3 separate regions of the Homo sapiens genome follow, and all the other regions are reported to be linked to region 3. The links are microRNA targets in miRTarBase. Many come from high-throughput screens and were not tested one by one. Region 3 holds a microRNA gene; each other region holds the end of a gene's coding sequence.
The links. Region 3 holds the annotated microRNA hsa-miR-1-5p (ACAUACUUCUUUAUAUGCCCAU, at 2,004-2,025, shown strand). A microRNA usually pairs through its seed, bases 2 to 8, with sites in the 3' UTR of a target mRNA and lowers its output. Matches are read on the target gene's strand: a 7mer-m8 pairs with bases 2 to 8, a 7mer-A1 pairs with bases 2 to 7 and ends in A, and an 8mer does both.

Region 1: the mRNA of BDNF is a reported target of hsa-miR-1-5p. The part of its 3' UTR that is shown has no 7-base or 8-base seed match.
Region 2: miRTarBase lists LONRF1 as a target of hsa-miR-1-5p. Seed matches in the 3' UTR shown: 7mer-m8 at 2,191-2,197.

Annotation. Positions count from the first base shown.
Region 1 is chr11:27,655,410-27,658,409 of GRCh38, forward strand. BDNF (brain derived neurotrophic factor) reads right to left here. Exons shown (of 2, transcript NM_001709.5): 2 at 1-3,000. The coding sequence ends at 2,412. BDNF-AS (BDNF antisense RNA) reads left to right here. Exons shown (of 7, transcript NR_033315.1): 4 at 2,832-3,000. Among named protein-coding and RNA genes, the nearest start is that of LINC00678, 22 kb to the left of the region's middle.
Region 2 is chr8:12,720,387-12,723,386 of GRCh38, forward strand. It overlaps LONRF1 (LON peptidase N-terminal domain and ring finger 1), which reads right to left. Exons shown (of 12, transcript NM_152271.5): 12 at 1,520-2,868. The coding sequence ends at 2,710. Among named protein-coding and RNA genes, the nearest start is that of MIR5692A2, 2.8 kb to the left of the region's middle.
Region 3 is chr20:62,552,309-62,556,958 of GRCh38, forward strand. It overlaps MIR1-1 (microRNA 1-1), which reads left to right and starts at 1,998; the gene lies at 1,998-2,068. It overlaps MIR1-1HG (MIR1-1 host gene), which reads left to right. Exons shown (of 4, transcript NR_171007.1): 2 at 1,157-1,357. RefSeq lists an enhancer at 4,412-4,650.

The DNA.
Region 1 (3,000 bases), not on the chromosome of region 3:
GCCCTTGCAATCCTTTAAGTTTGTGATGGGGGGTTGTTTGTTTTAAATTTGTCCCTCAAAAGGAAGCTGCATAAAGTTGACATACAGCAGATATTCCAAGCATTCCTTACATATTAAAAATAATTACAAAGATAATATTTTCAAACAACACAAAACAAATCTACACTACGTAAAGTCTTCCTTCTTTCAAAGAGGTATTCAGATGGTACTGTGAAAGACTAGCTCTAAATGAAAGACTGAACAAATTGAAATTCTTTGCTGATGGTATCTTCATTCCTGGGTTATGGTGAACATCCTCTTTTGCTTATCCCTCACCCTACTAAGATGCAGCAATTGCTTGGGGCTTTCTGATACTTAAGGATGCTGGTCCAAGTGGTGATCACTAACATTTTCAGGTGTGAAATGGGCTGAATGGGCTTAGAGCTCTAGTTTTCACTGGGGATCCATTTTTCCAAGAACCACTATTTCAGGCTCCCAACTTGACTTCTCCTAACCCAAAATGGCAGAGGTGAGGCAGGGACCCTCTCCATGAACAGACAGGATGGGCAGAAGGTTGCTGTGGCCTTCACTGGGGAGCAAAATTTTGTCAGCTCTGTCCTGGCCTCTTCCATTGAGCAAGGCACCTTCAAGTCTTGGTGTTCTGAATGTCCAGACACCTTCCCGAAGTCTTGTCTCTGGACAAGATTTCCTATGGGTCCCCTTGATCATTCGGCCTGAGTTTGGGGTTTCTTTTCCTGTTCCCTTTTCCCTTACCAAAAGTTCTCAAAAGATAAACCCTGGTTTCCTCAAGTCTAGTTTCAAAGCAATAAGTGTTCAGGTAGCAAACATCTTCTATCTCATTGCATCAATCTCATGATCACAAATGCCACATTTGGCTCCCAACCTGCTCCAGGCTAATCCAATTTTATGCAAAATTATCCAGAGGTGGGATGGTGGGCATAAGTCGGCTTGAGTGTGGTCCTCCAGTCGAGAACCTCTTGAGCACAGTTAGATAATGTAGGCACTTAAAGCACGAGGTCCAAGCAGCTTGACACATGTCATTCCAGAGCCACCTCTGAAGGGTCCTTCAGAGGCCTTCGTTTTGGAATGTCTCAAATACCATGCCCCACCTCCACCTAGACCTTGGGATGGCCACTCAGAAATTCCTCCCGCACTGCCGGTAAATGCAATGCCAACTCCACATAGCCTCCATTTGGCTGTTCAGTCTCATGTCACTGGCAATGTGGATTCCTGTTCTGATCTAGGTGTTTCTGGGTTGATACAGGGCTCTACCTTTTGCTTACAAGACATTGTTAAGCCTCACCATGAGTTTTTTTTAAGCTTAGCCATGATTTACCCAAATGTTCACTCCTCATAAAAAATAATCTTCATTTTGGGGTTATTTTTTGTTGTTTTCTGTTCTAAAAAAAAATCACTGTTCTCCATGCTTATACGAGTGTCATGATGTGACACAATGTGTTCACTTGTTCACAGCAGTGGTAAAATATTTCAGAACGCGCAACTGATTTTTCTTCCTTAAAACAAAACAAAGAGGAGACCAGAGGGGGAGGGGGGGAAAGAATGTGTTCTGAGCAAACATAGGTCCTTCCGTCAAAAGCAGCTTACTCTGACCAACGCCCAAAGAATGAGCGGGGCCTGGGAGGTGCATCACGGGATGTGGAGTGTGAGCATTTTTTTGTTCAGTTGCCTTAATTTTTATTCACTTTCTAGTCATCTGATCGATATTGCAAACATCTTCACAACATACAAATGTATCTTTTATCAGCCAGAATATATATTGTAGGAATTCTTTCCCCATCTCTACTCCCTGTGGGAACTAAAAAACAAAACAAACAAACGAAAAAAAAACACAAAACAAACAAAAATATACCCCCCATCCCCCATCCCCTAAGCCAGTAAAGCAATGACAACAGCACCTTGACATTGTTTTAATTCCAACGCTATCAGAAGTTAAAAGCAGTAAAACAGATATAGTACTAACAAGAACGAAGATACTTACTGTCTAAAATGTAAACGGAATGTTTTGGTTCAAATTTTTGTTGTGTGTGTGTGTGTTTTTTTTCTGTTTTCTGAAAGAGGACAGTTTATTATCAATTCACAATTAAAGCAGCATGCAATTTATTATTTTTTTTAACTTTTTATGTTTTCAGTTCTTGGCAACGGCAACAAACCACAACATTATCAAGGAATGTAATGCAGACTTTTTAAGTTGTGCGCAAATGACTGTTTCCCTTCTGGTCATGGACATGTCCAATAAATAGATTGTAGAACCACTGTACTGTATAAACTTCATTTATACATGCAGTTCATAAAATTATTTTTTTCTTAACTGAATAATTTACCCTGTTATGTATATATACAAATAGATAATTTTTGTCTCAATATAATCTAATCTATACAACATAAATCCACTATCTTCCCCTTTTAATGGTCAATGTACATACACAAGAAGTGTCTATCCTTATGAATCGCCAGCCAATTCTCTTTTTGCTATCCATGGTAAGGGCCCGCACGTACGACTGGGTAGTTCGGCACTGGGAGTTCCAATGCCTTTTGTCTATGCCCCTGCAGCCTTCTTTTGTGTAACCCATGGGATTGCACTTGGTCTCGTAGAAGTATTGCTTCAGTTGGCCTTTTGATACAGGGACCTTTTCAAGGACTGTGACCGTCCCGCCCGACATGTCCACTGCAGTCTTTTTGTCTGCCGCCGTTACCCACTCACTAATACTGTCACACACGCTCAGCTCCCCTCGGCGGGCAGGGTCAGAGTGGCGCCGGACCCTCATGGACATGTTTGCAGCATCTAGGTAATTTTTGTATTCCTCCAGCAGAAAGAGAAGAGGAGGCTCCAAAGGCACTTGACTACTGAGCATCACCCTGGACGTGTACAAGTCTGCGTCCTTATTGTTTTCTTCATTGGGCCGAACTTTCTGGTCCTCATCCAACAGCTCTTCTATCACGTGTTCGAAAGTGTCAGCCAATGATGTCAAGCCTCTTGAA
Region 2 (3,000 bases), not on the chromosome of region 3:
GGCCTGAGCTGCCAGTTCCAGCTGGAGTCCACTGCCTGGAGTGAGTACATATGGAGCTTTTTCCCCAGCCCACCCATGGCCGCCCATGGACCGATCAGCACACACTTCCCCTCCTGAGCCCATAAAAACCCTAGAGTCAGTAAGACTCAAACAGACCCTCAGGACTACCAGCTGCAGGAAGGAGCTACCCATTGTGAGTCTCCTTGACTCTTCTGGATGACCTGCTTGTGGAAAACAGCTACCCACTTCAGGTCTCTTCTCTGCTGAGAACTGGACACTCTATGGGATGACCTGCCTGTGGAAAAGAGCTACCCACTGAGGGTCTTCTCTCCACTGAAAGCTGGACACTCAAATCAGGAAGACCTGCCTGCAGAAAGGAGCTACCCACTTTGGGTCTCCTGAGAGCTGTTCTATCACTCAGTGAAGCTCCTCTCTGCCTTGCTCACCTTCCAGTTGTCTGTCCACCTCATTCTTCCTGGATGCAGGGAAAGAACTCAGGACTTGCTAAATGGTGAAACTGAAAGAACTATAACACAAACAGGGCTGAAACACATACCCCCCTTGCACCCCAACTCACCACATTGTGGGTGACAAGAAGAGCTACAGCTATTTGGGGAGTCCAGACCTAAAGGGTGCCTAAGCCAGGGCTGTGACACCCTCTTTGGAGCTCTGTGGTTCCTGGCATCTCCAAGCTTCTGGGTGCCACAGTGTTCCCCTTGTCCAGATGTGGGTGCCTGCAGTGGAAGCCACGTGGTGCATCTGGTCCAGCTGCAACCTCGCATGAAGGTGCCCACCCCAACACAGCAGCTGGTGTGCCTGGCTGTGTGCAGTGTCTGGACCCTGCATGCACTTGCCCACACACCCCTCGCTGCTCCGTGCCTGGTTCGCTCTTGGCAGGTGGGGGATCTGGGCTGGTAGCAAAAGCCAAGCACGGCCTGCCAGGCTGAGTGGCCAGAACAAGCCCAGTGGGCATGAGCATTACTCAGGCAGAAGGCACCACCGGCCACAGACATTTCTGGCTGGCAAAGTGCCACCCCAAGGATCCTGTGACAGGAAAATCACTTGAGCCCAGGAGTTTGAGGCTGCAGCAAGTTATGATTGTGCTACTGCATTCCAGCCTTGGCCATAGAGCAAGATCCTGTCTCTAAAAAAAAAAAGATGATTGACTGACATTTGCAAAATCCTAGCTGAGGAACTGGGGGCAGAAACAGTCCAGTCTGTGTAACCAAGAGAAGTCTCAAATGGTGAGGCATCAAAGAAAGAATTTTAGCCTTACCCTAAAGGGACATGGATTTTTAAAAGGTTGAAAAATAGTGCTTTAGGGATGGTTCCGAGGCCTAAACCCTCAATAAATTGCTTTTTTTTTCTCAAAAAATAAAAATGGCCAAAGTTTTTGGAAACCATAGCATATATCTAATGCCACCAAACCATAAGCAAAACTCATCTGTTCTTTAACATATGCAGTTTGGTTCTTCTACTGACTTGTTTTTATAACACTGACCTACAATTTAAGAAAAAGTATTAGGAATTTAGCTTTTATTCAAAATTAAATAAGCAAAAGCAAAAATTTTAAGAAACTTTTACAAATTACTTACATAAAAGAAAGTTAATAAGGACAGTCACAAATTTGCAACAAATAATTACAAAAGTTTCTAGGGCAGCATGAATATAAACCATGTTGCAGCATGGTGATCTAACTGTGATATGAATAAGGCATAACTAACATTTGCACCGAGACCAGAATTAAAAACAAAAACAAACTTTAAAAGCTTAGTTCTATATTAAACTTCTTCTCTTTTCCCAGATCCTTAATGGGTTTATACTATGCATTTTTTTTTAAAACAAACACATCATGTCAAACTATAAATTACACAAATGGGCAGTTAATGTGAAAAGCCCCCTAAAATGTACAAACTAACTGGTACTGAATTGAGTTCTCCCTTTACCTTTATGTACAATTAAATGTAAACCATATTTTCACAGTTTTGAGTGTTTTATGAATAGATGCACAGTACCATGTCAGGTTTACAATTGTTCCTGAAAACTGGCTCTAGGTTCTGCATCCAATGCCTGTCGGCCACTGTGATGCAAGTATTTACATAAATAAGAAACTGTGTCATAGTCAATGGTCAAGACAGTTCAGCAAGAGCAGTGTTTCCAACAAAGAATGATCCTCAACACGATATTTTACATACTTGTGCAAATATAAGCATTAGGACAGATATATCTGAGGCAAATTCAATTTGCAAAAACTTGTATCGCTACTCTTGTAAACTTGGGCAATAAATGACCCTCGGCAAGTTCTGCTCTCTATGGCTTTTTTGTTTGTTTGTTTTAAAATTTTAAAGCCAGAGAAAATACACACACACTACCCAACCCCCACAAGCACACACGCACGCACACACACACACACACTCTCTCACAGACATAAAGAGTTCTTATTTCATTTTAGAGTATGGTACATAGTGCAACTTCACAATGTAGAGGTTCGACACACATTCAATGCGTGTTTTTCTGTGCAAGTTCTTAGTGGTCTAAATCCTAGTTGAAGGTATTCATTTGCAGAACCACATGATTCAGGAGGTCGAAGGAAAAAGAAAAGTTTCATTAAATTTCTGAAACCAGCACTAGATGTGCAAAGGCAGCAGACAATCTGGCCATCAATGCAGCCAGATTAGGGTCACTTTAAAGGGAGATCCAAAGAGTTAGTTACTTAGATTGGTCTCTAGAAAAATAGGTCAGTATATGCTGTATCTTGGTCAACCGTTCTTTCAAAGACTTCATTGACAAAACCGACAGCTGGTATCGTGGGTCTACAGGGAGAACTGCAAGAAGCCACCAACACCATGCAGGTCCATTAGGGGCTGCCTAAAAACAATGGACAGTTTATAGCATTAATAAAACAAGGATTTATGTAACAACAGTAGCAAACCACCAAAAAATTACTATTTATTGAGCACTTGTACTATGTGCCAGGTGCTATCTCCAATGTCCTTAACA
Region 3 (4,650 bases):
CACCCCCCGCCCCCACCCACCCCCACGTGAAACTCCAACCCAGCCATGCCCAGCTGCAGACCCACTGCCACACAGCCACAGCATGCTCAGTGGCCTCTGCACACTGCAGGCTCTGCGGAGACATTGCCCTGCCCTGGGTGGTAAGAGAGAACCAACTCGCTCCGGGCTGTCCCCTCGCATGGACGGGCTGCCTGGAGGAGCAACAGAGTCATGTTGGACCTCTCTTCCTGATGAGGACAACGGGAGGTCCTTTCATGTCCCGGGGCTGCTGTCCCACCCCACGCCAGGGTCAGTGGCAGGACAGGGGCCAGGGCCCAGCTGGACCCCACCGCTTAGCAAGCCTCCTGTGTCTGTGCCCGGCCTGCACCCCCAACTGGCGCCTCCCTGGCCCCCGTCCCCCCCAGGCACCTGCAAAGCCTTCTTTCCACCTCTCACCACCGCACGTGCCAGGCTCGCCCTGGGCCACTGCGAGGCCTCGAAACCCTGCAGGCCTCCTCCTCCTCCTCCTCCTCCTCTCCCCGCTCCCAGCAGGTTCGGGGCGGCTTCCCTTCCTGCTGGTGAGGGCCTAACCTTGAGGTCCCATTGGTCTCCTTCTGGCTCTTTCTCCACATTTTTCAGAGTCTGGCTTCACGGCTGGTCATAGAAGTTGGCAGGGAAGGAGGCAGCCTCTGCTTCCCACTCAGAGACATTTTTAAACGCAATGAAAAACATATCGATACAATTAAGTATTCCAAAGTGCTTAGTTTGCCACTCGCTAAGTTTACTTAAACCCTCTTTAACAGGCTCATTAGGAGCTGGTGAGCACCGGGAAATTCATTAACAGGAAGGCGGCCCCCTGCATTTGACTGTAAATTGGTATTGATCAGGGGCTGGTGGAGGCTGGGCGGCTGGCCACAAAGAGCCAGGTGTGGGACCAGCCTCCCGGGGGTGCCACGGCAGTGGCGCTGGGCAGGTGACGGTGGCTGCTGACCCCCGGTGCCCATGTAAGCTGCTGGCTCTGCGCAGCTGCCGCTTCAGGTGGGCCGCACTGCGCGGCGGTTCAGGGTGGTGACGCTGCGAGGCGGGGACGGGGGAGAGGGTGAAGAAGAGCGAGAGAAGGAGGGAGAGAACCGGGGGAGCGACGCTCCCTCGCCCACTGGGTGTCTGCTGTGGCCAGGCTGAGGCACCTAGGGAGTTGCCCCCCTAGTGGACGGCCTCTCAGGAGATCCTGACCACCCTCTGGGAACCTGGACTCCTCCAAGCATCGTCTTTCTCGCCTGCATCTTCGGAGAGAGGTGCTGAGCCCTTCCTCATGGATACGGGGTCCCGGGAGGCAGCCTTCACCAGGGACCTGCCCAGGAAACCAGCAGATGCCCAGGTAAGCCCCCAGGACACCTCTCGGGTCTCTGGTCTGCAGTTCCTCGTCTGGCCTCAGGAGCAAGGAGTTGTCCAGCTCCCGGAGAAGGAGGAGGCTGGTCCTGCGAGTGGGGTGCTGGGCAGGGCGCCCCCCAAGGTTCCTCTCTCCACCCAGCCCTCTCTGGGCTTGGCTGGGATGAGGTGACCCAGGGGGACAGGAAAGTGTTGGCTTTGAAAGTTTGGGACATGGATGATGCCTCCCTGCTCTGGGGTGAGGGTGGAGGGGCAGCCTGTCTCTTCCATGGACGCAAAACCGAGCTACTGCTGGGGCCAGGGACAGGCGCTCGAGACTTTCTGGGGCTCACTGTCCACTTCTGCCTTTCTGGATCGTGTGAGTGTGTGAGACAGACAGAGAGAGATGGATTCAGGGATGGAGGGGCGCCGAGGTCAGAAGGGGGCAGGGAGTCCTGGGCCCCTGGGGGTGGCTGGACACCAGGCAGCAGTGGCAGGAAGGCTGTCCTGCTCACACAGAGAGGGCTCCGGCAGTAGACTCCAGGGAAGAAGTTACACTGCCTCTGAGCTGCCTTCTCTACATCGCAGTGGGGTCAGCTTCTACCGGGGCGGCGTCCCGGGGTCTTGGAACTGCATGCAGACTGCCTGCTTGGGAAACATACTTCTTTATATGCCCATATGGACCTGCTAAGCTATGGAATGTAAAGAAGTATGTATCTCAGGCCGGGACCTCTCTCGCCGCACTGAGGGGCACTCCACACCACGGGGGCCGCCGCGGCCGACAGCCAGCCAGGCGGCTGTGGTGGGGGTGAGGCTGGGGCGGCAGGCTGCCTGGGCGTTGGTGGACGGTCGTGTCCCCGCCAGCATTGTTCTGTCACTTTGCCTGTGTCAGCAGGTGGAAGTGCTCACCAGACATTAAATATTCAGCTTGCTGACTGCGGCAGAGGGGAGGCGGCCTCCGGCAGGCGCGGGGTCCAGCGCGGGGCTGGTGAGGGCTGGGGGGTCGGGGCCGTGGCTGGAAAGCACGGAGTGGTGGCGGCGGCTCTGGGGGCTCCACTGATGGCCATCCTGGAAGAGGCCATCAGCCGGCAGAAAGGGCCACGTGTGGCCAGGGCAGAAACTGCTCAGAGGCACAAGACAAGAGCGAGTTTGGAAAAGGGCAGGTGGCTGGATGCAGAAAGGAGGGAGAGGCTGGGCAGCACATGGTAGAGTCTGCGGAGGGAAGGCACCTCCTGCACCTGCATCCAGCCCTCCCGGCTGTAGGGCAAGGCAGAGGAACTCGGAGGCATGTAGCCTCCAAGGAAGGCGCAGCCCACACGAGATGCTGGGGACGCGGGCAGGGTCAGGGCCACCACTGCCCTTAGGCCCCACTCCTCTGCCGAGGGCACCTGGGACAGGGTCAGAGGAGCTGAGTCTGTGCAGCCCTGAACCCACAGCCCACCCCAGGGGCCTGGGAGCCGTTCGATTTTGCCAAATGTCTGGTTCATGCCGCCCCAACCTGTACCCCCACCAAAGCCCCGGTTCAGCTTTCTCTCTGTTCCGCCGAATCCAACCTGAGGCATGTTTTGCTGTGAATGCAGGTGAGGCTTTGGCAGAAAGCAGCGTGTGGCCCAGGGCCCCTTGCCCCACCTGTCGGGGGCCTGAGAGCCATCTGCTCTGCCGCCATCCCAGTCCTGACCCGAGAAAGGACTGGGAGGATGTCCTGGGGCCCAGGGGATGAGGGCAGGTCCGGATCCGTCCGTGAAACCCTTTTCCCCAGTGCTGGTCCTTCAAGGAGAGGATGGGCGGCGGGTTCTGGGGTCTTAGGCAGCGGCTGGGCTGCTGTGTGAGGGGCGTTTGCCCGGCTCGTTTCTGAGTCTCAGATTGGAGGCGTTTGCCACCTGGGATGAGGCCAGGTCCCTGCCTGGGCACCCCCACCCTGCCACAGGCCTCAGGATTAATTTCTGGGGTGTGTGTCCTCTCTGCCTTGGCACTGCTCCAGCCACAGCGGTGCCCCTGTGCCCTACCTCCCGCACCCTGGCCTTCGGCAGGAATGAGGCGGGAAGGGACAGGCAGGCAGCCCCCTCCTGCAGCGGCTGGAGGCCTTGGGTCTGGGGGCAGCCAGGTCACCTGAGCAGCTGGGGCCAGCATAGGGAGCGCTGGATAAAGGGATTGGGGGCCGTTCTGAGCTTTCAGGTGGCTCCCACCCCTCAGGGAGCCTCGAGGTGACTGGAGGGGAGGGCCTGGCAGTCAGGGCTCCTGGCCTTCAGGTCTTCCTTCTGGAAACTTCGTTCTCCCAGCCTCAGCCCCATCTGGCGTAGCAGCAAGGGGGCGGGTGTTGACCTCGGGCACAGCCTCCTCTCGGCCTCTGGACCCGGAGGGTCAGTGCCCAGCATCCGCTGACGTCATCTCTTCCCTGCCTGCTCCCAGCTCCGGCCACAGGGAGGGAAGTAGCCGGGCGTGTGGCCACCGAGGCTGCCGGTGGCCACAGACACACCGTTCTTTTCCCCTAGATGCGGCTGTTGTACATTAAAGCTTTATTGCAGGATGTGGTGTTTAAATAAAAGCATTAGTGTTTTGGAATTAGGTTTGACTGAGCAGTAAAACTGGAGAGTTCACAGGGAGAGAGCTGCGGCCTGCTTGGCGGTAAATCACCTCCAGTCTCTGATCTGCTGAATTAAAAATGAGCATTGCACGGACACCGCCCATGGCAGCCCGAGCCCCTCTCCCCTGCACGTGTGGCCTGATGGTGCTCCCTGGGGATCCTGCTGCTTTCCTGGAGACACTGGGACCCGGGGCTGGAGTCTCCCATGCGTGAATCTCTAAAGCTTGGCTCCCGGGCAGCAGCCAGGACGGGAACCCCAAACTGGCGTGGGGCATGGACACGCTGGGACTTTCCCCTGTGGGGGTCTTTGTGCCTGTCCGTTTGAAGGAGGGGAGAGCAGGCAGGGCGGGGGCACAGACCCTCACTGGCTATGTCTTGCCCGCAGGGACTCTCCTGAGACGGCTTAGGCACGCTACCATGGGGGCCGGGACTCTCAGAGGGAAATGAGCCTGGACTGGGCTGAGGGGGCTGGACATGGGACACCCACCCCCTCGCCTGCCAGCTCGGGAACCCAGGTGGGTTTGTGTGGCCATGAGGAGGTGGCCAGTGCCGGTGTCTCTCACTCCCTAGAGCAGGTAGCACCAGGTGTAGGCTTCTGGGTTTCCCAGAACACTCTGGAAACTGCCCCACGGTGATCAGAGGCTGGGCCAGGCTCCCGCTCGTGGAAACAGCCGCTGCAGAAATTGTGGAGCTCATAAATTCAGCGGACCAAATTAGTT